Homo sapiens: one gene and its partner. The protein of the gene in region 2 interacts with the protein of the main gene of each other region in a biochemical or structural test. Each region holds a gene or a part of one and is shown on either strand. Other genes may lie near its edges.

Region 1 (7,887 bases), on a different chromosome or scaffold from region 2:
TGCCTAATCCCATGGCAGTCGAACTCATCCAGCCAGAGCCTTGACAAGGCTCATCCACAGCATGGAACACCACATTGAAGTTGTTCCTGGTTCTGCTGTGTCCACACATTTTGAATAGACCCTTCTGCACATACTGAGACCAATCTGTAGTCTTCCAAGAATCAACCACATAGCTGTAGGTTACTCCAGCTGCCATTGTGGGAATGGTGGTAAATTGCCTGAAGGGAGAAGAATCACTTCTGGAAAATGATTTATTAATTTTTTTTTTTGAGACAGAGTCTCACTCTGTCACCCAGGCTGGAGTGCAGTGGCACAATCTCGGCTCACGGCAACCTCTGCCTCCTGAGTTCAAGTGATTCTCATGCTAACAAACACTGGTACCTTCCTACTAAGTTTACTCCAGGCTTTATCTGGATTTCACCAGTTTTTCATTTTCTGTTGCAGGATCCAATCCAAGAGCTCACATTACTTTTAGGAAGCTGCTTTTGGATAAAACATGAGGAAAATGTCTAGAGTAGTAACACTAAATGGTTCTGAGGCTCTGTCTATGTGCCAGATACTGCATGGGTTGGAACATAACCTCCATTTATAAATGAGTAAACTGAGGGTCACAGAGGATCCACAGCAGGCAAGTGGCAGAGGAGGGGCATTGCTGGGGCTAGCAGTGGGTACCACAGCCTTTCCTGCCCAGCACAAACCTGGGCATACTGAGTTTTTCTCAAGAGTTTGCATGAAGACCAGAGCTGACAGGTGCCTGCCACCTCGGTACTTCCAGCGCAAAGCTCTGTGGTCAGGCTCCAAGCACTGAGTTAGATGCCACAGTTCAGTTCATCACCTCAGTTCCCTGCAAGGAGCAGCAAGGGCCAGTGGGCCAGAGCTGTCATCTGAATGCTAGTGAATTTGATCCAGATTCAAGCCCTAACCCAGCCACTCACCAGTGCTGTCTTTGGACAAGCCAATAACCTTTCTGAGCCTCAGTTTCCCCATCTGAAATGTGGAAATAATTGTTCCTAACTTCAGCAATGTTAGAAGATTTAAATAAGAGAATACAGGTCCACTTCAGAGAGCATGAATTCCCACCTCTGAATGGCAAACACAGGCATGCATGCACATGTGTGCATGTCTGTCCATATGCATGCACATAACATCATGGGCAAACTACAAATGTCCTCAATCCAAGAGCACTGCTGCCTGTTGTTTCTTTGTAGATAAAGACGAGGCAATTCACTCCCTGTCTACAGTGGCTGATGTGAATTCCATGTCATGGTTCAGAGACAATCTGGAGGGTGAACTCGGTACTGACAAGAGCTGGGGCTGAGGACGCAGCCTCCCAGTTTCAGATGCTTCTGATGGAGGCAGGATGAGGATGCCCAGTCTCCACTCCCCTGAGGTCCTGGGCCTGGTGGCCCCCAGTCCCTCCACACACTCATCACAGGGGGTGGGCCTGCTCCCTACCACCTGGGTGGGAGGGCTGGGTTTGGGGGTGCTGCTTTCATGAAAGCAACCAACCAGATGAACCTTAATCTTCAAAGCTTCCCCCACTGAGCCTAGGGGGAGAGTGACAGTTCCAGAAGTTACCTGAAAATTAGGTGATTTTTACCCTGTATCCTGAAATTCATAAATCTAGCAAAAGATGACATAAAAGAAAAAAAAGGCAGTAGGAAAGATAAAAGAGAAGAAGGAAGAAAGAAATGAATAAAGAGAGGGAGAGAAAGAAAAAGGGATGGAAGGAAGGTAGAAAGAAGATAGAAACAAAGGGAGAGAGAGAGAGAGAAATAGGGAGGAAAAGTGATAAGAGCTGCCCAATAGATGATGAGAAAGAGTGAGAGAGAAAAAGAGAGGGGGAGGGAAGGTGATAATAGCTGCCTGACAGATGAAGAGAAACAGATAGAGAGAGAGAGGAAAGGTGATAATAGTTGCCCAATAGTTGAAGAGAAAGAGAGACAGAGACAGAGAGAAAGGTGATAATAGCTGCCCAATAAAGAGAAAGAGAGATGGAGAGAGAAACAGAGAAGGAGGAGGAGGGAGGGAGGAAAGGTAATAACTGCCTGATAGATGAGAAAGACAGGAAGATACAGTGAGGGGGGCAGGGAGAGAAAGGCAGAGGCAGAAACAGAGGGAGGAGGAGGAAGAAAAGGTGATATCTGCCCAAAAGATGGGAAAAAGAGAAAGATACAGAGAGAGAGAGAAACACAGACAGACAGACAGAAACAGAGGGAGAGAGAGGGGAGAGAAAAGATGATAATAACTACACAATAGATAAGAGAGAAAGAGAGAGAGAGAGAGGCAGAGAGACAGGAAGAGAGAGACAAAATAGGCAAACTGAGAATCACTTGTTCCTCTAGTATCTCTGCAAAATGCCATTGAGATGCAGCAATCAGAGTGCGCTACCGACGGCTCTCTCACGTTTATCATCTGACTCTCTAAGAACATACAGCTATGCTTGAGTGACTGGGCTTCAAGTGTTTGTTTAAAGCTGTGCATGACAGAGAAACTTGGAATTCCAAGACAAACTTGGAATCTTAATGATCTTGTCTGCGCTCAATTACTTGACCTGATTTTGCTCGGCAAATATTAGCCATCAAGCCAGACACACCTGTAGAAAGAAGCCACATAAAGGGCATTTGCAGTGGGAATCCTTTCTGCCCGTTTTCATAGCACACAAATTGTGTGTTTAACCAATTGTTGCAAAGTTTAAGGGCCTCTTAATAATACACATCCACCTTTCCTAAACTTCAGGGATTTTTCTAAGACAAATCAATCATTCCTTTAGTTGAATGACTTACTGAAAACATTGACTTAATGACTGGCTTTTTCTAACTACAACCATTTATATTTCTCAGCCAGAAATAAAACAAAAAAGAGCCATTCCTCCTGAATACCTGCAAACAATTACAATTATCAGCAAAGTGCTACCCACTCTTTGATATAAAACTTCCCTTGTAATGGAAAGTAGTAGATATAATTTGCCATGATTGGGTCTGCAGGAGAGAAATTAATGAATATAATAATTAAACGTAATACCTGTAGATAGAACTTGTCCCCATAAAAGACACATTTCAAGGATGACTGTGGAGATCCCCATTTTGCTGGGTTCTTCTCAATTGAATAGAAAATCCTGGACATTTATAGGTACCTAGCTAAAAGGAGGTGTGTCCTCTAGGGTGGTATATTTCTACTGCTGCTATAAATCAATATAAAGGAAGTGAGGGCTTTTGCTAACAGTCGATGGCTAATATGTGGAAAAAACTTAGGTGTGTTTGATTGATTGCCATATGAACAATCTGGCTGTTGCCCAACTGCAAACGCACTGACATAAGTGAAAAATTTCCAACTTCCCTCTCGGTGAACCTCAAGGACTCCCAAGTGTTTCCTGAATACGGGCTTGATTTTAATCTTGGGGAGTTCAAATTCACCTGTGGGAAGTCTGCCCCAAGGTTTGGGGAAGAACAGGATGTGGGCTGCTGAGCAAATACAGGACACAGTGCCAAGGGGGAAAGCATCTCTGGGATGGTTTTTCCTGGCAGGACATGCTCTCATCAGCCCCTGTGCAGTACTAGTAACCTCACCTTGGAAGAACGAGGATGACATGAGTGTGGATGTGATCAGAGAGCAGAAGTCATGAGGGATGATTCCACGGAGACCATGGGTCCATAATAGCTTTGGCCACAGTCTTCTGGGTCTCACACTAATTCCACAACAGGAGCTGAGAAACACATGACCTCAAACTGAACCACCTCCAACCATTTCACATGGCTTTGATTTCTTGTCCTTGACATGCACATTGTATGACCCTTGGAGCTTGGCAAACCCACAAAACCTGCCCCCACCTCCACCTATATTGCACACAATCCCCCTCCTTGGATTTGCTATGTAAATATCACTTCACTCTTTGGGACCCTCAGAAGTCATTACCAGACTCTGATAATGCCCCCCAACACACTCTACCAAGAAGGTTGCCTGACACTTATTTTTTAACCAAGACACTTGATGGCCAGTAACTCTTGGTTAAAAGCAGACAGCTTTCCAGGACTTGCCTCTGTTTTCCTAGCCTGGGTGAGCTGTGCCCTGCTTCTCAGCTGAGAGGCTGAGGCCATGAAATGACACTTGGCTTCTTTGCCATGCACTGTTCATCAGTAGTCTATGCTGCATTCTAGAAGGGTACCATGAACCCATGTCCTGTGTCAGCCACCAGTCAGAATTTAGGGCTGGAAGTCTGCCTTTGGCTTCATCCAGATGAAAGTTACATTTAATCTTGGATGTCCTTTTTAATCCTACAACTCTTCCTGTTGTTTCCAGGTGCCTCTTCACCCCTTGAGTAGAACAGGAACACAGAATAGGCTCACTGTGTTTCATCCTCCTACTGCCAGATCAGCAACTGATAAGCACTGGGTGACGAGAGAACAGGTTTACTCACCTACCAGGGAATGCCCAAGACCAGGCACATGCTGGATTCCTCTTAGAAGTGGATTGTGATCCCTTGGTTCCTGGAGTGTTGGACTGAGAATGATAATGCAGCTGGGTCTGGGATCATCAGAGTGTCATGACAGATTAGAATTGTCTGCCGGGAGCACAGCAGGGAAAGATGATGGTAAGAATACTAAATACCTGTGAACAGGAAGGGGTAATAAGTGTCCTTCCAAGACAAAAGCAGACTGTCTGGTCTTAGAGACAGACCTGCCTGGTGACAATTTCAACAGGGGGTAGCAAGTATTAGTACAAGCTGCTATGAGAAGGTAAAGAAAAGCATCTAAATCAGATGAGGGAGGCCATCTCTCAGAGAGGGTGGCACCAAACAGTCTTGAAATACCAGCAGAGGTCAGCCCAGCAAATGAGAGCGAGAAGATGGGATGACGAACAGGAGCGACTCTCCCGGCTGTACAGGAATGGGGGCAGGGAGCCTTCCCCTCCAGGAAAGCATGATGTCCCAGGTATCTCTCAGCTTGGCGGGGACACCCTTCTTGAGAATGTGTGGGATTTTCTGAACTGCGTAACCTCCCCGTTTTTGTTGTTTTGACTGCATCTTTTGCCCATGGTGGTTAGCAGAAAAGATCCTGAGAAAATAAGGTTTGTGAGCTTTTTGTTCAGGAGACACCAGGAAGAAGGAAGTGGTGAAGCCTAGCTGTCATTTCAAAGCCAGCCCAGGTAGGCATCCCAGGTGGGAAATGGGTGACGTCAGTGGAACAGGAAGGATGTGGCGGTCCTGGGCATGCGGGCAGAAGACAATGGGCTTGAGGGCCACCTGCCAACACCGTGTGGGACCTCAGCCTTCACCGTCAGGTGCCTCATCTTGTCCCAAGGCCATTTTGTGGCTCATAAGACACCATTTAGGGAGGTCTTTCCTTGGACTAAGAGAAGGGTTCAGGGGGACAACCTCCTCCAGCAGCAGCCCCTGCCAGAGGACCCTCATCTTCCCCTTCCTACTGGTTAGAAGCATCTGCTTAAACAGCAGGGGTTGGAAGACCACAACCACAAAGTTCCATTTTATTCACCCCAGAACTGCCATGAAGAACAACAGGAAGCAAGATAAGCCCATTAAAGCTCAGAGACTCGGCGCCCGGGCCCCATTTGCAAAGCACCTTCCCCAGGCAATTAAGCCAGCGGCACCCCCACAGCACACTCCAGGAGGTGGGACCAAGCCCCTAAATCCCAGCACCAGAGGACTGGTCATTATGGGGAAGAGCCCCCTGGATCATATGTGGCCATTTATTTATTTATTTACTTATTTATTTTAAGACGGAGTCTTGTTCTGTCGCCCAGGCTGGAGTGCAGTGGTGCAATCTCGGCTCACTACAACCTCCGCCTCCCAAGTTCAAGCGATTCTCCTGCCTCAGCCTCCCGAGTAGCTGGAACTACAGGCGTGCATCACCACACCCAGCTAACTTTTGTATTTTTAGTAGAGACAGGGTTTCACCATGTTGGCCAGGATGGTGTCGATCTCTTGACCTTGCGATCTGCCTGCCTCGGCCTCTCAAAGTTCTGAGATTACAGGCATGAGTCACCGCGCCCGGCCATGTATGGCTTTTTTTTTTAAAGCTACAGAATCCTTTCCTAAATTGGAATTCATGGGGAAGCCCCAAAACATAAAACAGGCCAGTGGAATGCTCCCGAGTGTGGTGAGGGAGTCCCCTTCCAGGCCCCTCCCCTAGGGCCACCTGCCGTCAGAGCTGAGGATTACCTGTGGGAAGCCAAGACCTCCCTTCATAAGACAGGGCACTGAGAGGCCCAGCAGGGCCCCTGGGGCTGCCAGGCACACATCCCTGCCACGAAGCTGAGCTGGGGTCCCAGGCAGACTTCCCAAAACAGCCCGTTGTTCTCCTTCTTCTAAAGATTCTTTCTACCCACAGACCAGTGCCCTGGGAAGCCAGAGGAAGACGGAGATCAGGGAGGCAGCCCAGGGCCCCTCCCACCTCCCACCTCTGAGGGGTCTCTGATTTCTGAACCAGGAGCCCTGTGACCTGACAGACAGACGAGGGGGACAGAAGGACGGGGAGCCTGGTGGGAAGGGTCGGGGCTGTAGCACTTTCCGGCTGCTGCTGTTTGCCTTCCAGTCCCTGAATCCTGTAATCTGTGTGACCAGGGCTCCCCTTCAGGTGTCAGTCTGACCCCAAACTCTAATTTTACCCTCATTGAGTAGCACACCATAATTGCTGGTCATCGTTACCGTTGTAACAATCTTTTGACATTGTATGTCTGATATTTATAATGTCGCTCATTTTTGTTGCTCAGAGAGCCGGTCTTCCCAATCGGGTTATAAGGGGACCCCTTCCTACCCTCCTTCACTCACTCCCCCCACCCCCCACTGCCCCACACCTCCTTGCTGGGCTTTGAGGATCAAGCTGAGACCCGTTGTCTCCTGCTGCCCCTCTGTGATCCCAGTGCCCCAGCAGAGCAGGTGCTCAGCAGGCAATGGCTTTGAAGGTGGGGATTGTGAGTGGCTCACCCATGCTGTCCAGGGGTCCCCAGAAAGAAGTCTTGTGGTTAAACGGGGGCTGGTGACGAGCCAGTTCTCCTCCACCACTCAGCCTCCAGCTGGGGACGATGAGGTCCAGAGAAGGGAAATGACACACAGAGCTGAGACCATGTCCAGGACAGCACTCACGGCAGCTGCTGCCCCCCATCTGAAGGACAGATGAGCTCCACGTTCATCAGGATGCCATCCAACCGCGGAATCTTCCAGCAACAAACACAGCCCTCTAGGGACCCCTGACACACAGAAATCCCATTGCATGCCTCCCATCTTGCTCAGAGTAAGGCTCAAAGCCCTCCCATGGTTTATAAGGCCCTGCACAAGATACCCCTGCCTCTCTCTCCCCCTTGCCCCCTGTAACCATCATCCAGCCCCAGGGCCTTTGCACTTGCTGCTCCCTGTGCCTGAAGACTTTTTCCCCAAATGTCTGGAGACTCACTCCTTCCCCTCCTCCAGAGATTTTCTCACATAGCACCGCCTCCATGCAGCCTTACCGACTGCCCCTCCCCAGCACTCCCTAACACTCCCATCCTCTCCCCACGGCACTCCTCACCATCTGGCCACCTTCTATTTCACTTCTTTATTCTTTTGCCTGTCTGCTCTGACTAAAATGCAAGCTATACAAGGTGGGATTTTTGTCTGTTTTATCCATTGCTGTATACTCAGAACCTAGAACAATGCTTCACACATAGTAGTAGACGCTCAAGAAATATCTGCATTCAGGCCAGGCACGGTGGCTCATGCCTGTAATCCCAGCACTTTGGGAGGCCAAGGTGGGTGGATCACTTGAGTTTGTGACCAGCCTGGCCAACATGGCGAACCCTGTCTCTACTAAAAATACTAAAAAATTAGCTGGGAATGTGGCACATGCCTGTAGTCCCAGCTACTCAGGAGGCTGAGGCAGAAGAATCACTTGA
Region 2 (4,498 bases):
GGGGAGAGATTCTGGGATGGGGGAGAGGTTCTGATTATTCGGGGAGGGACTTTTAGTGTGGGGAGGGGTTCTTAGTGGGGGGGCTGTCTGTATGGGGGGGTTCTCAGGTAGGGGAAGGTTTTCAGTGCAGGAGCATCTGCCCTGTGGGTGGGCCTGAGACCAAATCCTGTCCCTCTAATGTGGAAGTGGTCTTGAGAGGGTGGGGGGGGATTGTCTGCCCACCTCTCTAAGCCTCACTCAGTCCTGGCCTCTGTCCCCTGAGCATGAGGCCCTGTCTTGTCCCCTCCTCCTGACTCTGCTTGAAAACCAGGATCAGCCCCGGATGGCTTGGAGAACCATGCCAACAAGTTCCAAACACAGAATTAGTGGAAATTCTCTGCTTTAAAACAAAGAATTTTCTGATATATTTTCTTGAGGAATAAATTTTGAGGAATCGGAGAAATACGCAGTAGGAAATTGAAGCTCCCTTTACTCACTCACCTTTACCCACAGACCTACTCAGAATAAGACCACCCTACACTCACCAAACCCCAGGCTCAGTCATGGGTTGTGTCTAAACATAAAATACGCAGGTTTGGTGCCCACACCGCAAACAACACTCCCCACATCATATTACTGTGTCCACCAAGATGGGCTGTTTGCAGGCCTTGGGGCCTCAGGAGAAGCCTGAAGATCCAGGCTTCCTTTAGTTGGCATGTGGAGGCCTCAGCAGTCTCTGGGATGGTGGCCTCTGCTTCCCCAGGAACCTCTGAAAGGGGTGCATGTGGTGGAGGGGCCAGTGTAGGCATCCCTCGAGGGAAAGAAAAATTTGGTCAACAGAACCAGGGTCAGGGACTCCTTGGCTGGACCCATACCATCACCTCCTGGGGAGGCCCAGAAAATGGTGTCCGCGGACCAATGGGGGCTGAAGGGCTCTGATTTCCAAACTGTGACACGTGTGTCCTCTCTCATCCATGAACAGGAGCACCTGGGGAGCCCCAGCCGTGCCTGACAGGTGACTGACCACCCCCACACTCCTCCCACGGCTTGTGGCTGCCCTTGGCTGGAAGTCCAGGGTCATACGACGCCATTGCCAGAATGAAGTGACAAATATGAACAGAAGAAAATGGTTGCTTGCCCGTTTCCTTGTCCCCTAATTATTCAAGGAAGTGACAAATATTGTCCAGACAACTTACATACACTCCATGGCAATTTTTTTCTATTTATAATCTACGCCAGAAGGCCGGGTGCCCAGGAGCTGAAGGTGGGGGTGACACTGGGAGGTGGGAGGGCCAGGCCAACTGGCTGCGGCCATCACAGCTGCGTGGCCCTGGGGGCCGTGTCCCTGTCCAGGCCTCAGAGTCCCGCTCTGTTCATACAGACGCCTATGGCCCTGCTTCTTCCTCCCAGGCCTCCCTCCTACTGCCTGTGCCCTGCCCAGGGCTCCTGTCCTGCAGCCATTCCCCGGGTTCCCTTCCCAGGCCCGCGTACCTGCAAGGACCTGCTAGACCGAGGGCACTTCCTGAGCGGCTGGCACACCATCTACCTGCCCGACTGCCGGCCCCTGACTGTGCTCTGTGACATGGACACGGACGGAGGGGGCTGGACCGTGAGTGTGGGGCTGGGCAGAGGCGGTCAGCCTGGGAGTCCCGGAGGCCAGGCTGCACACCTGGTGGGAGAACACACTCTGGAATTCTCTATTCTCCTGGTCGGGGACAGTCAGAGATGATGGGGGAGATGACCGGTGGGTAAAAGTCCAGGCCTTTGGGGGAGGCTGGGAGAGGTTGGGTGCTCTCCTGCTGTGTGGCTTGGGGCTTGTTGCCTCCCCTCTCTGAGCCCCCATTTCCTCCTTCATCCTGTGGAGTCTGTGAGGAGAACAGGTGGGCGTGCTGGTGACCCCGCCTGTGATGCTCTGCCAACTACAAATGCTGCTCCTCTGGAGGGCGGGTCCCCCGTGCTGTGGGACGTCGGCCTGGCCCCCCCGGCTCCTGTCCCCTGGCTTCTCCACAGGTTTTCCAGCGGAGGGTGGATGGCTCTGTGGACTTCTACCGGGACTGGGCCACGTACAAGCAGGGCTTCGGCAGTCGGCTGGGGGAGTTCTGGCTGGGGAATGACAACATCCACGCCCTGACCGCCCAGGGTAGGGCCGCTGCTGGGGCTTGGGGGTCGGGGGCCCTGAATGGGGGTGCCCCTGCCTCTTGGGCCTGGGCTGCCTGGAACACAAGAGCCTCTTGGCCCACAGGGGATTGGGCCCTGAGCACACTCAGGGTGGCACTGGGACCTCCGAGGGCTTCGTCCCTGCTGCAGGCTCTGGCAGCATCGGGACGGGAGAGGGTCAGAGCTCTGGGATGAAGGCCTCTTCAGGTCTTGGCCCCACTGGCATCTCAGGTCCTGAGAGGGGAAGGAGGGACACAGTGGCCCCATAGTGGAGTTTGGGCCCAACCCCAACTCTGCCTCTAATCCGCTAGGATTTGGGAGTCAAGAGTCTTGCCCTGCTGCTCAGCACACCCTGCCGGGTCAGAGCTACACAGGCCCCGGGGATGCTGCGGTGCTCTCCGCCCTCTGCCTCCATGGAGTCCAGACCTCCTTCCAGGCCCTGCCCCAGATCCCCAGCTCCCATGTCTAAAGGTAGAGAGCCCTTCCGCTGAGACCCTGAAACCTTTCTCTAACAGGAACCAGCGAGCTCCGTGTAGACCTGGTGGACTTTGAGGACAACTACCAGTTTGCTAAGTACAGATCATTCAAGGTGGCCGACGAGGCGGAGAAGTACAATCTGGTCCTGGGGGCCTTCGTGGAGGGCAGTGCGGGTGAGTGTCTGCTTGGGGCTGTGTGGCCTGGGCTTCTGAGGGGGGTTTGGGAAGTGGAGAGAGCGTGCTCAGTGTCCTGGTAGCCTTGTGGAAGAGGCCTCACCTCTCTGAGCCAATTCGTCCATCTCTACATGCAGACACTAACATCTGTGCTCTGTGTAGCATGGGGGTCATGGGACACATCAGTGTATGACTGCAGAAATCCCAGCAAGGGCATCTGGTAGGAAGGAAGTCTCTGCAGAGCAGGGACCTATGCACGGTGACAGCAGCTGATATCTCTGCGGGGCATGGCTGGAAGGGGTCTGCCATGATGGAATCCAGAGTAGAGAATGATGATCCTGACCCCTGCCTCCTGTTCTTCTGTGAAATAAACATAGTACACATTAGGTGGCAGGGCTAGACCTAAAGACAATTTGCCAAGACCACTGCCAACAGCAGGGCAGTATTCACTGGAGTCATGGATTGCACTTCTTGGATTGTGCAGTGCACAACCTGCCTAACCATACATGGAGGACACACCAGGCCAGGCCTCAGGTATAAAGACTTATACTGTCTGTAATGATGTTACTGCCTGTAACGATGCTCACATTTCCTCCTGCACAGGAGATTCCCTGACGTTCCACAACAACCAGTCCTTCTCCACCAAAGACCAGGACAATGATCTTAACACCGGAAATTGTGCTGTGATGTTTCAGGGAGCTTGGTGGTACAAAAACTGCCATGTGTCAAACCTGAATGGTCGCTACCTCAGGGGGACTCATGGCAGCTTTGCAAATGGCATCAACTGGAAGTCGGGGAAAGGATACAATTATAGCTACAAGGTGTCAGAGATGAAGGTGCGACCTGCCTAGCCCAGGCCGGCCTCAGGGTCAGGACGCCTCCACACATAGTTGGTTGGGGGGTAGGGTTGGGAGCTTGGCCCTACGGTTTGTAAAAGAAACACATGTCGTGATTCTAAATTGGGTTTGTCTTGCTGTGCGGAAGAGGTTCAAATCCAGCTCTGTTTCCGCAATCAACCCTTTCAGATTTGTGACATTAACTCACCTCAAACCTCTGTCTTTCCTTGACAATGAGTAAGAATGTGTTCCTGACCATGCCAGCAGGAACCTTCCTTAAGGACAAATACAAGACTTTGAAGCTGCGATGGGCTCAGAGTGCAGCCCTGCTCAGGTCCCTGGGCAGGCTAAACGCCTTCCTGGGGCTCGACCATCTGGGCTTCTCTGTGAGCTGGATGGCAGGGAAGTCAGAAGGCACATTGGAGAGGAAGTTTCTCTTGCACTCAGAGATGCCGTTGCCTGTCCAAGGCCCCCAGCCTCGTAGCCGCAGCTCTGCTCACTCTCCCCCGTCACCCAGGCTTCCTGCCGCCTGCTGTCCTGGGTATTCGTGGGATCTGCTCGCTACTTCCTCACAAGCCGAAGCAAGAGTGGCAGTGTGCCTGTGACTCCCTCATCAAAACGGAGAGAGTGGTTACATGAGGCAGGTGTGAGGGACCCGAGCACTCCTGAGGAGGGAAGAACACTCCTCTTGGCCATGAGTGTCCATCCCAAAGCTGCCCTGCAGCCTAGCCCAGTGCAGATTGAATCAGAAAGCCAAAGCCCCTTCCACCCGCTTCTCTCAGGCAAGCTGCCTGCAAGAGAGAAAAGTGTATTAGTGCAGGAGCTTGTGTCTGCTGAGGATGGCACCTGGCCCTCTCCTCTCACCACGTCCGGGTC

Evidence for each region.
Region 1: the proteins of FCN2 (region 2) and DMBT1 form a complex in vitro, tested with the Homo sapiens proteins (one study listed by IntAct).

Annotation. Positions count from the first base shown.
Region 1 is NC_000010.11:122,555,969-122,563,855, reverse strand, and holds the start of DMBT1 (scavenger receptor cysteine-rich domain-containing protein DMBT1 isoform e precursor), read right to left. Parts: upstream 3,103-7,887; 5' UTR 3,086-3,102; coding exon 3,025-3,085; intron 1-3,024.
Region 2 is NC_000009.12:134,883,779-134,888,276, forward strand, and holds the end of FCN2 (ficolin-2 isoform a precursor), read left to right. Parts: intron 1-961; coding exon 962-994; intron 995-1,460; coding exon 1,461-1,588; intron 1,589-1,989; coding exon 1,990-2,119; intron 2,120-2,651; coding exon 2,652-2,786; intron 2,787-3,389; coding exon 3,390-3,637; 3' UTR 3,638-3,745; downstream 3,746-4,498.